Linked DNA regions of Homo sapiens: region 1 is linked to region 2. The links come from fine-mapping of genetic effects on gene expression. A gene starts in region 2. The other region holds a variant in brackets. All regions are shown on one strand. Distances are from middle to middle. Region 1 has its middle 12 kb from the start of SYVN1. Region 2 holds the start of CAPN1-AS1 (CAPN1 antisense RNA 1).

Evidence for each region.
Region 1: its variant is fine-mapped to the expression of CAPN1-AS1 in whole blood (INTERVAL, PIP above 0.99).

What each region holds. Positions count from the first base shown.
Region 1 is chr11:65,143,350-65,148,720 of GRCh38, reverse strand. It overlaps the pseudogene HIGD1AP10 and the pseudogene RNU2-23P. Among named protein-coding and RNA genes, the nearest start is that of SYVN1, 12 kb to the right of the region's middle. The variant C/T (reference allele first, on the strand shown) is at 2,182.
Region 2 is chr11:65,178,754-65,184,124 of GRCh38, reverse strand. CAPN1-AS1 (CAPN1 antisense RNA 1) reads left to right here and starts at 2,291. Exons shown (of 2, transcript NR_145677.1): 1 at 2,291-2,900; 2 at 3,053-4,254. It overlaps CAPN1 (calpain 1), which reads right to left and starts at 2,197. Exons shown (of 22, transcript NM_005186.4): 1 at 2,112-2,197; 2 at 1,157-1,424; 3 at 928-997; 4 at 533-651. The coding sequence starts at 1,423. RefSeq lists enhancers at 142-931, 932-1,720, 1,721-2,510 and silencers at 1,533-1,827, 2,429-2,878.

The sequences.
Region 1 (5,371 bases), 35 kb after region 2:
CAAGTAGATCTGCCAGGGACCCTTCCCAGGAAATTATTTATAACAATTCCAGCAGAGATGGCTTCTCATCCTCCTTGAAGCTACTGGACTCTGAGCCCCTGATTCTGCCACAGCTCATCACTCTAGACCTGTCAGGCTTAACACAATTCACTTATCCAACCATTCAATCATCCATCATCCACTTAGCCAATCCAGTCTTTTTTTTTTTTTTTTTTTTTTTTTTTTTTTTTTTTTTTTTTTTTTTTTGAGACAGAGTCTAACTCTGTCAGCCAGGCTGGAGTGCAGTGGCGCTATCTTGGCTCACTGCAACCTCGACTTCCTGGGTTCAAGTGATTCTTCTGCCTCAGCCTCCTGAGTAGCTGGGATTACAGGCACGCATCACCATACCTGGCTAATTTTTATATTTCTAGTAGATATGGGGTTTCATCCTGTTGGCCAGGCTGGTCTTGAACTCCTGACCTCACTCAGATGATCCACCTGCCTCGGCCTCCCAAAGTGCTGGGATTACAGGCGTGAGCCACCACGCTCAGCCCAATCATTTGTTGACTCACTTCTTCAACACTCCCTGAGTTCTTATTCTGTGGCAGGCCCTGGGTCTGGGGCCAAGAACAGGGAGTCAAATTAGATTAGGGCTGTGAAACAAGCCACTCTCAAACCTAGAGGCTTATGACAATACCAATCATTTATTTTCTTACCATTATGCAATTTGGGCAAGGCCTGGTTGAGACAGCTCTTCTTGTGCCTCCAGCTCCATCCTTGGAGCTGGAGGACCCTTCAAAGATGGTGCACTCCAATGGCTGGCAAGTTGATGCTGGCTAGAGCTATTTATTTATTTATTTATTTATTTATTTATTTATTTATTTAAATTCCCCCAGCCAATTGGATGGTAGGGCTAGAGCTTTTTATTCCCTATTTTTTTCATTTTTAAACTTTATCTCCCTTTAGGGGTACACTGTTCCTGGAGGTACTGCAATGCTAGGTAAATGTGTGGAGTGGGTGGGGCAAGCTCCTATTCCATCTCTTAGTTCCAAAAATCTATTTAATATAGATTGTGTCCTCGAATAGAGGACATATCAGATATTAAACTGATAAGAACAGATACTACACTTGATCTTACCCAAAAGGCTGAGAATGGAGCTTTGATTCTCCTCTACATGGGCCTCCCCACAGGACTGCTTGGGCTTCCTCACAGCATGGTGGCTGAATTCCAAGAGAAGAAAACAGAAGCTGCCAGTTCTGTTTTAAAGGGTAAGCCCAGAATTGGGCACAGCTTCATTTCCACCATATTCTACTGGTTCAAAGCAAGTCATAGGCCAAGTCCAGAATTAAGGGGGTGGAGAAGTAAACCCCACCTTTCCATGAGGGACGGGATAAGGAATTTATGAGCATTTATAATCCACAAACCTAACTAGGAGTGCAGTTTCATGCTGCTTGGATTGAGGAATTGACTGGTTGGATAACTGACTGGGTTTGATTAACACAAACTAAGGATTATTTCTCATTATATCTGTTTCCACATGGTGGACCTTTTCTGGAGTAACTAACACTGCAGAAAAGTGGCCTTGTCCCACTTTCTCTCACTCACCCCTCCCAAGAAGTAGAAAAGAGAGTTTTCTTGGTGAAGTTGTTAGAAGCAACTATGTATGGGACCCAAAGTGAGGTAGGAGGCAGGTCTCAATTCTGGAGGTGGGGCTGGGACACCAGACCAAATTGAGGACTTGCTAAAACAGGGATGGGGTGGAGGCAGCTTTCCATAAGACACACCCACCAGTGTGCCATGTCAGTTTACCATTGCCATGGTAACACCTGGAAGTTACTGCCTCTTTCTGTGTTAATGACCAAACGACTCAGAAGTTACCACCTTATTTTTAGAAATTTCTGCATAATCTTCTCCTTAATTTGCATATAATTAAAAGTGGGTATAAATATGACTGCAGAACTACCTCTGAGCTGCTACTCGGGGTAGCCCTGGTGTGCAAGGAACAGTACATCTGCTGCTGCTGTGCACTGCCACTTCACTAAAAGTGTCTGTCTAACAGCACTGGCTCACCCTGGAATTATTTCCTGGACAAAGCCAAGAACCCTCCCGGGCTAAGCCCCAATTTGGGGGCTTGCCTACCCTACATCAAAAGAAGGAGAAACCTTTGGGAGCAGAGTGGGTAAGTCTGTGCAGCTCTGGGA[C/T]GGGTACAGGGACTTCAAATGCATTTTCTCAACAACTCTATTGGTTACAGAAGTAACATTTTTATCTCTATCCTATGTGTCTGTTTTTCAGATGGTACTAAACTTGGTCAGGGAAAGACAGGGTGTTACATTGTATGCCCTGTAAAAACCCTTGCTCTAAATCTGTCACATACTTGGCACTCAAGAAAAACATGTTAAATGTTAACTAAAAGAATGTTGACATCAGGTGTGAGAGGTTTTCTTCTTCTTCCTTTTTTTTTTTTTGAGATGGAGTCTCGCTCTGTCGCCCAGGCTGGAGTGCAATGGTGCAATCTCGGCTCACTGCAACCTCCACATCCTGGGTTCAAGCTATTCTCCTGCTTCAGCCTGCCAAGTAGCTGGGACTACAGGCCGGCACCACCATGCCCAGCTAATTTTTGTATTTTTAGTGGAGACGGGGTTTCACCATGTTGGCCAGGGTGGTCTCGATCTCCTGACCTCGTGATCCGCCCGCTTCAGCCTCCCAAAGTGCTGGGATTACAGGAATGAGCCACCGCGCCCAGCCGGGAGATTCTTCAAGCAGTCATTATATCAACAGACACAGATGTTTCCCTTTCTTCATATGACGAAGCTCAGGGATCCAAACTTATTCGTAAAGCTAAAGAGACACCATTGGTACCCGTTGGAATAGCAGGTTTTGCAGCACTTGTTACATATGGATTATACAAATTGAAGAGCAGGGGAAATACGCAAATGTCCCTTCATCTGATCCACATGCGTGTGGCAGCCCAAGGCTTTGTTGTAGGAGCAATGACTATTGGTATGGGCTATTCCATGTATCGAGAATTCTGGGCAAAACCTAAGCCCTAGAAGAAGAGATGCTGTCTTGGTCTTGTTGGAGGAGCTTGCTTTAGTTAGACATCTCATTATTGAAGTTATGTGTTATTGTGGAAAATAAACTATTTGAGTGGGTTTAGATGGTAACACAGCATTTTGAATATTGGCTTCCTTTCTTGCAGGCTTGATTTGCCTGGTGACTTAATTACTAGTGACTAGTTTACTAACTAGGTCATTCAAGGAAATCAAGTTAGCATAAAAGAAACATGTCACCTAAATGCACTAGATGGTGTTGAAATGTCCACCTTCTTCAATTGTGAAGATGAACTTAAGTTCTAAAGGATATAACAAGCCAACCCTGAAGTACTCCCAGTTTGCTGCAGGATCTCACATGTTTCGGATGTTATATAAGAGTCCTATTTGCCCTAGTTAATTTAACTTTTTTTCTGCCTGTCTTGTGGACTGGCTGGCTCTTTCAGAACTCTGTCTAAAAAGTGCATGGAATAAAACTTGTAAAGCTTCCCACAACTGACAGTATCTATGTGTGTGTGTTTAAACCAAATCTAGAAAGCTTACATTATAGCTGCATAGTAGTGGTATTTATTAAAGAATCACAGTTGTGAACATGAGAATAACTTATGGATTCTAGTTTAGTTATTTTGTAATTGCAGAATTATATTTTTGCTGCTGTTATATCTGAATAATTTTTAAATGTCATCTTGAGATAGAAATATGTATTTAAGCACTCATGCAAAGGTAAATGAGCACCTTTTATTTTATTTTTTTTGAGACGGAGTCACGCTCTGTCACCAGGCTGGAGTGCAGTGGTGTGATCTCAGCTCACTGCAACCTCCATCTCCCGGGTTCAAGCACTTCTCCTGTCTCAGCCTCCTGAGTAGCTGGGACTACAGGTGCACACCACCATCCTTGGCTAATTTTTATATTTTTAATAAAGACAGGGTTTCGCCATGTTGTCCAGGATGGTCTCGATCTTGACCTCGTGATCCGCTGGGCCTCAGCCACTCAAAGTGCTGGGATTACGGGCATGAGCTACCGTGCCCAGCCCAATGAGCACTTTTTAAATGTGTGCATTGCTTATTTTTTCCATAAGAATTACAAACATTAAACTAATCAAATTACCTATAATGGAATTGATTAATGACTTATGAGCAAGCTGGTTTGGCCAGACAGTATACCCAAACTTTTATAAACTATAGAATGTTATTACATTTGTGAAATTTTCTTGTCTAACCTGAATTTACATTTCATGGTGATAACATGGTATATGTACTGTTGTTAAAGTAAGTGACCATCTCAAAAAAAAAAAAAAAAAAGAACGTCAACATCAATTCTGACAGGACAGGAATTTGGACAATGTAGCTTTTACTCATTCATTCTTCCACTAATGCATTCATTCAGCAGACAGTCAAATAACCTGCAATTAGCTTGTGGATCTCTCTACCATGAGACTGAAAGCTCCATGAGGTCAGGGAATGTATTTTGTTCTCCACAATGTCCTCAGAACCTGGCCTGGGGCCTGAACACAGTAGGCCCTCAGTAAATGTTTGTTAATTAAAGGAATGAGATCAGAGGCAAGGGAAGTCCAAAGGCAGTCTAGATAGACCAACAAACTGACCTCATGTGTGGTCAGTCCCACATTCAATGCACACTTCTTGGTGAGGGGGTCATTCAGGGAAAGTTGGAGGGTCTGGCCTTCCAGGCTGGGAGTACCTGGAGTGTTCCACCATGGAAGAGAGAGAATAGTTCCTCATTTTCTCTTTCATGGAGGGAGAATGTGAGAATCCAGATGTTGTTGTCAAAAATGTTGAAAAACTTTTAAGCCGAACGCAGCAGCTCATGACTGTAATCTCAACACTTTGCAAGGCCAAGGCAGGTGGATCGCGTGAGCCAAGGAGTTTGAGACCAGCCAGGGTAACATGGCAAAACCCCATATCTACAAAAAATACAAAAATTAGCCAGGCACAGTGGCGCATGCCTGTAGTCCCAGCTACTCTGCAGGGCTGAGGTGGGAAGATCACTTGAACCCAGGAGTTTGAGGCTGCAGCGAGCCCTGATCATGCCACTGCATTCCAGCAGCTTGGGTGATAGAGCAAGACACTGTCTCAAAAAAAAAAAAAAAAAAAAGCCTGGGCATGGTGGCTCACACCTGTAATCCCAGCACTTTGGGAGGCCGAGGCGGGTGGATCACGAGGTCAAGAGATGGAGACCATCCTGGCCAACATGGTGACCATCCTGGCCAACATGGTGAAACCCTGTCTCTACTAAAAATACAAAAAATTAGCTGTGTGTGGTGGCAGGCGCCTGTAGTCCCAGCTACTTGGGAGGCTGAGGCAGGAGAATCGCTTGAACCCAG
Region 2 (5,371 bases):
CAAAGGCAGCTCATTGAGAATTGATTGGTGTGACTTGAAAAATGGGCCCTGGGCACACCGTCAGGAAAAGCTGGTTTACGTAGACTTAATCCCGAGTCTTTCTTTTCTGCTGGGCTCAGTCAGACCTTGCCAAAGCGCAGGAGGAGTTGGGGGATAGGAGGCTTGACACGTGGAGAAGGCCACACGTGCTGATCTGTTTTCCCCAGCGAACACTCCTTTCTCAGATGGGGCAACTGAGACCGACCTCCGGGAGGAGTGGAATTTGTCCCACAGGATATAACACAAAAGTCTTTCTGTTCTTTCAAGCACTTTCCACCTGATACATACAACCACCTAGGAAAACTGCCAGCCGAAATACCTGCCCAGCCCAGTCACTTCACACATGACAGACCCGAGATGGCACTGAGAGGTCAAATACCTGCTAGAGGGAGGGCTGGCCCCACAGGGTGTGGCCCTAACTGCAGGTATTGTGGGTCATCCTTCCGCATCTCCCCCAGTGCCTGCTGCCCCTCCTCCCCAGGGGAGCCCTCACCTGGAAATGGAAGATGCCGGCATAGCCATTCTGGAAGCTCTGGCCGTGCGGAACCACTCGGTGCAGGAGGGTGTCGTTGAGAGTGAGGGAGGCGATGGCCGCCAAGAGCCAGCAGTCCCCTGGGGCAGGAGGGATGCACATTAGCCTGCTCTACCAACCTGCCCCGGGGGGGGAAGCGGGTGCTAGGGAGAATCTGGGGTTCCTTGGCCAGGGTGCCACTTAACTCCCCTCAGCTTGCAGAAAAGACCCAGGAATCTGGGCAAACCAGCCCCAGCGCTGATAGCCAGATCCTGCCTGGGCTTGCAAGAGGGAGGGGTTGGGGCAGAGCCTGAAGGAGCGGGAATGGGGAACTACTGTGGAAAAAATACCCGGGACCCGACGCCCTGGGGGCCTACCCAGTGCTCCCTGGCAGATGTCTGTGCGGGTAGCTCCATCCACAATGAACTGGGGGTTTGACAGCAGTTCCTACGAGAGACCCAGAGTCCTGTTCCTCGGCCAGCCCCTCCCAGAAATTGGCACCAGGCCACCCCAGACCCCATTCCCCACCAGGGACATGGAGTCCCATCCCTACTCCTCATCCAGGATCTGGCTTAGCCGAGTCCCACCCAGGATGGCCCCTCTCACCGTGGGACGCTTCCACTTGATGCCATAGGTCTTGGAGGAATTGGGACCCAGGTCCTTGTAACCCAGGCTCTGGGGTACCGGGGGGAAGGCCTCATCACGGAAGAGGGTCCCACTCTGCAGGCATCGCACCCGCAGCTGCTCATAATCCTGGCCCAGGTACTTGATGGCATTCTCATGGCGGCCCAGGCCCAGCTCCCTGGCCCGCTGCTTCTGCACTTGGGCTGACACCCCAGTGCAGTACACCGGCGTGATGATCTCCTCCGACATCCTGCCGGACAGATGGGCCTGCTCAGAACCCAGGCCTTCCCAAGACTAGAACCTGGGCTCCTGCCTGCAAGCTCTGCTCTCCTGCCCCTGCTTATCCATCCCCAAACCTAGGGTTTCCCTGCCTCACTGCTCCCCTCACAGAAGTAGGGTTCTCAGCCACCTCCCGGTGCTCCCAGTGAATCCAGGAAAGGGATTTCCCAGTTCCCAGGCGTGCCGGCCACCTCTCCTTTCCCGGATCCCATTGTCAGGGGCTTGCAGCTCTGTAGTGAGCCAGCAGGTCAGGTGGGGCAGGGCGGAGCCTCCAGACAGCACAAGGAACTGGGCAGGTGGGACACAGCAGGGAAGGCCTCTTTGATCCTGTTCACAGGCCTGCAACCCCCTCCCCAAACTAACCAAGCTCCTGGTGCACCGGCCCCTTGCCGTGGGCTGAAAACCCCAGACGGTCGGGGTCCCCCTCCTCAGGCCCCCGCAGCAGGCTCGATATCAGAGCTGGTGGGCCCTAGCCCAGCCCCTGGGGACAGCGGTGAGCCAGGCTGGGACAGGCGCCTGGGCTGTGCCGCTCCGCCAGCCCCCACCCCTGCTCCAGGAACGCAGAGGCCCCCGAGAAGGGACCGTGCTGGGGCAGCCCCTCAGCCCAGGAGCAGTGGCCAGGGTCAAGGAATCCCGGCTCGGCTACCCAGCTTCTTACCTGGGGGAGGGGTGTTTGGGGGTCGCTGCAGTCCCTGAGGCTGGCTTCCCGGTGGCAGCTCAGGGCAGGGCCCAACCAGGAAGAGCGCTCCTCCCCGCCCTCCTCCCGCCGCCCCTCCGCCCTCCGCCCTCCCTCTCTCCTTCTCCTCCTCCTCCTCCTGGGGCTCCTACCCCGCTTCCTCTCGGCTCTCCCTTATCTCTCCGGCACGGTCTCTGACTATCTCTTACTCACGGTGTCTCCCCGCCCCTCCCTCCGCAGGCCGGGGGCCAATTCCGCGAGAGGACAAATTAGTAAAAGGCAGAGCAGTCCCCGGGGAGGGGCCAGCGCGGGGGGGGATGGGGGGGCTGGGGCGCGGCGGAAGGGCACCGCGGGGAACGGAGGGGGAGGGCCGGGCAGGGGGTATTTTTAACCAGGGGCAGCAGCTCGAGTTGCAGGGCCGGACGGCCGCACCCCACGCGCGCCCTGGCGGGCATTCCGGGGCGATTGTGCGGCGGCGCCGCCTCCCGCAGCCCCGGGCCCGCCCGGTCCCCAGCTCCCCTCGCTCCGCGCGACCGCAGCTGCTCCCGCCGTTCCCAGCCAGCCCCGGCGCGGGGCCGAGATTACCTCGGGCTGCGGCAGCTGCTCTGAGGAGGGGCCGGGCTGGCAGCGAGCAGACCCCTGCCGGACACTCAGCAAACGGCAGCCTCACCCCGCAGGGCCGCGCCACTCCCCTTCCCCACCCCACCGCCGCGTCCCGGCTCAGCGCTCCCCGGGGAACGCAGGGGGACCGGGCTCGCTGCGTGACCTTGGGTAAGTCCCTGCCCCGTTCGGCCCGACTTTCCGCATGCGTGCATCCTATGGGATGGGGTTGGGCAATTGTGGGAGCCCATCTTTCTCTAACGTTCTGGGGTTTCTTGAACCTGGAAACTTAGAGAGGTGGACATCCCTGTTCTCTCCCCCAGGCTCTCAGCCCACCCACCTGGAAGCGCCCATGTGTCACCTTACCCAGGAGAGGGCGGCAGAGGCTGCGAGCAGGACGGCAGCCCCCTCTCCCCACCCCCAGGACCCTGAGATCCTGCTTCACGGGCTGCAAGAAGTTGGGGGGCCAGGATTCGGCGCGGAGGCCGGGGGTGTGGGTGGGGAGACTGCAGAGACTCCCGAGACCCCCCCAAGTCAGGGCTTTTCGCTGGTCTCGCAGCCCCAGCCCAGCAGCTGCTGCAGTCTTGCATGTTGTGGATGCAAGCATTTTGCTGAGGAAACTGCATAGCGTTCCCAGGACTCTAGGGCCCACGACCCCTCAAAAGTTAAGAGCCGCTGATCTAATCTAACCCCACTTTCACCCTCAGTTAACAAAAGAGGAAAACTGAGGCCTGAGAGGGTGTGACTTGCCTGAAATACCTAACCTGGTGAGTGATGGGTGGAACCAGCTCCTAGGCTTTCTGCGCAGGTGTCCAGGGACAGAGAAGGGTGGTTTAAACTAGAGAGGTGGCAGGCAGAAGTAGATGGATTTGATAACTATTTAGGATACACCATCAAAATTTAACTCAAACTGGATTACACACCTAAATATAAATGGCCAAACCATAAAACTTTTTTTTTTAAAAATGGAGACAATCTTAACAATATTGGGTTTGAAAAGATTTCTTTTTTCTTTTCTAAAGGCAGGGTCTTGCTTTCATTGACCAGGCAGGAGTGCAGTGCCCTGATCACAGCTCACTGTAACTTTAAACTCCTGGGCTCAAGAGATCCTCTCACCTCAGCCTCCTGAGTAGCTGAGACTACAGGCACGTGCCACGACACACAGCTAATTTTTAAATTTTTTGTAGAAATGGGGTCCTGCTGTGTTACTCAGGCTGGTCATGAACTCCTGGGCTCAAGCAGTCCTCCTGCCTGAGCCTCCCAAAGTGCTGGGATTACAGGTGTGAGCTTTGGCACCTGGCCAGATTTCTTAAATATGACACAAAAAGTGTAAATGATAGAAGAAATCAATAAATTGAACTTCATCAAAATAAAACGCTTTTGTTTCTCAAAATGCACGAAACTATTAAAAATGAAAAGATAAGCCATAGACTAGGACGAATATTTGTAAAAATTCTATCTGATGTAGGACTTGTATAAAGAACTTTTACAATTGAATAAAAATCCAATAAAAATGGACAAAACATTTGTTTGTTTTCTGGTGTTTGTTTTTGTTTTTGAGATGGAGTCCCGCTCCATCACCCAGGTTGGAATGCAGTGGCGCGATCCTGGCTCACTGCAACCTCCACCTCCTGGGTTCAAGCAATTCTCCTGCCTCAGCCTCCCCAGTAGCTGGGATTACAGGCGCCCGCCACCACACCAGGCTAATTTTTGTATTTTTAGTAGAGACAGGGTTTCACCATGTTAGCCAAGCTGGTCTCAAACTCCTGACCTCAAGTGATCTGCACGCCTCTGCCTCCCAAGGTGCTGGGATTACAGGGTGAGCCACCGCGCCTGTCAAAAAATGGACAAAACATTTGAACAGACACTTCATCCAAAAAGATCTCTGGATGGCAAATAGGCACATTAAAAAACACTGAGTGCATTACTCTTAGGGAAATGCAAATTAAAGCCACTAGAAGGACTGCTTCTAAAAGAACACCTACTAGAATGGCTAAAAGTTAAGATCAACCATACCAAGTGTTGTTATGTTGTCAAGGATATAGAAGAACTGGAGCTGTCATACACCAAGAGAGGGTAAAATGATCACCACCACTTTGGAAGACAGTTTGGCAATTTCTTTAAAATTTAGCGATACAAAGAAATCAGCCATCAAGCTACAAAAAGACATAGCATAACCTTAAACGCATATTGCTAAGTAAAAGAGGCTGGTATTAAAAAGCTGCATACTGTATGATTCCAATAACTCTATATGACGTTCTAGAAAAGGCAAAACTAGCAATGGTAAAAAGATCAGCAGTTGCCAGGGATTCAGAGGGGTAGGAGAGGGATGGAGCACAGGGCATTTTTAGCACAGCGAAACTATTCTGTATGATACTGTAATGACGGATGCATGACATGCATTTATCCAAACCTGCAGAATGTACAACACTAAGAGTGAACCTTAATGTAAACTATGGACTTGAATTAATAATATTGTGTCAATATTGGTTCATCAGTGATTACAAATATACCACAGGCTGAGCGCAGTGGCTCACCCCTGTAATCCCAGCACTTTAGGAGGCTGAGGTGGGCGGATCACATAAGGTCAGGAGTTCGAGAGACGAGCCTGGCCAATATGGCGAAACCCTGTCTCTACTAAA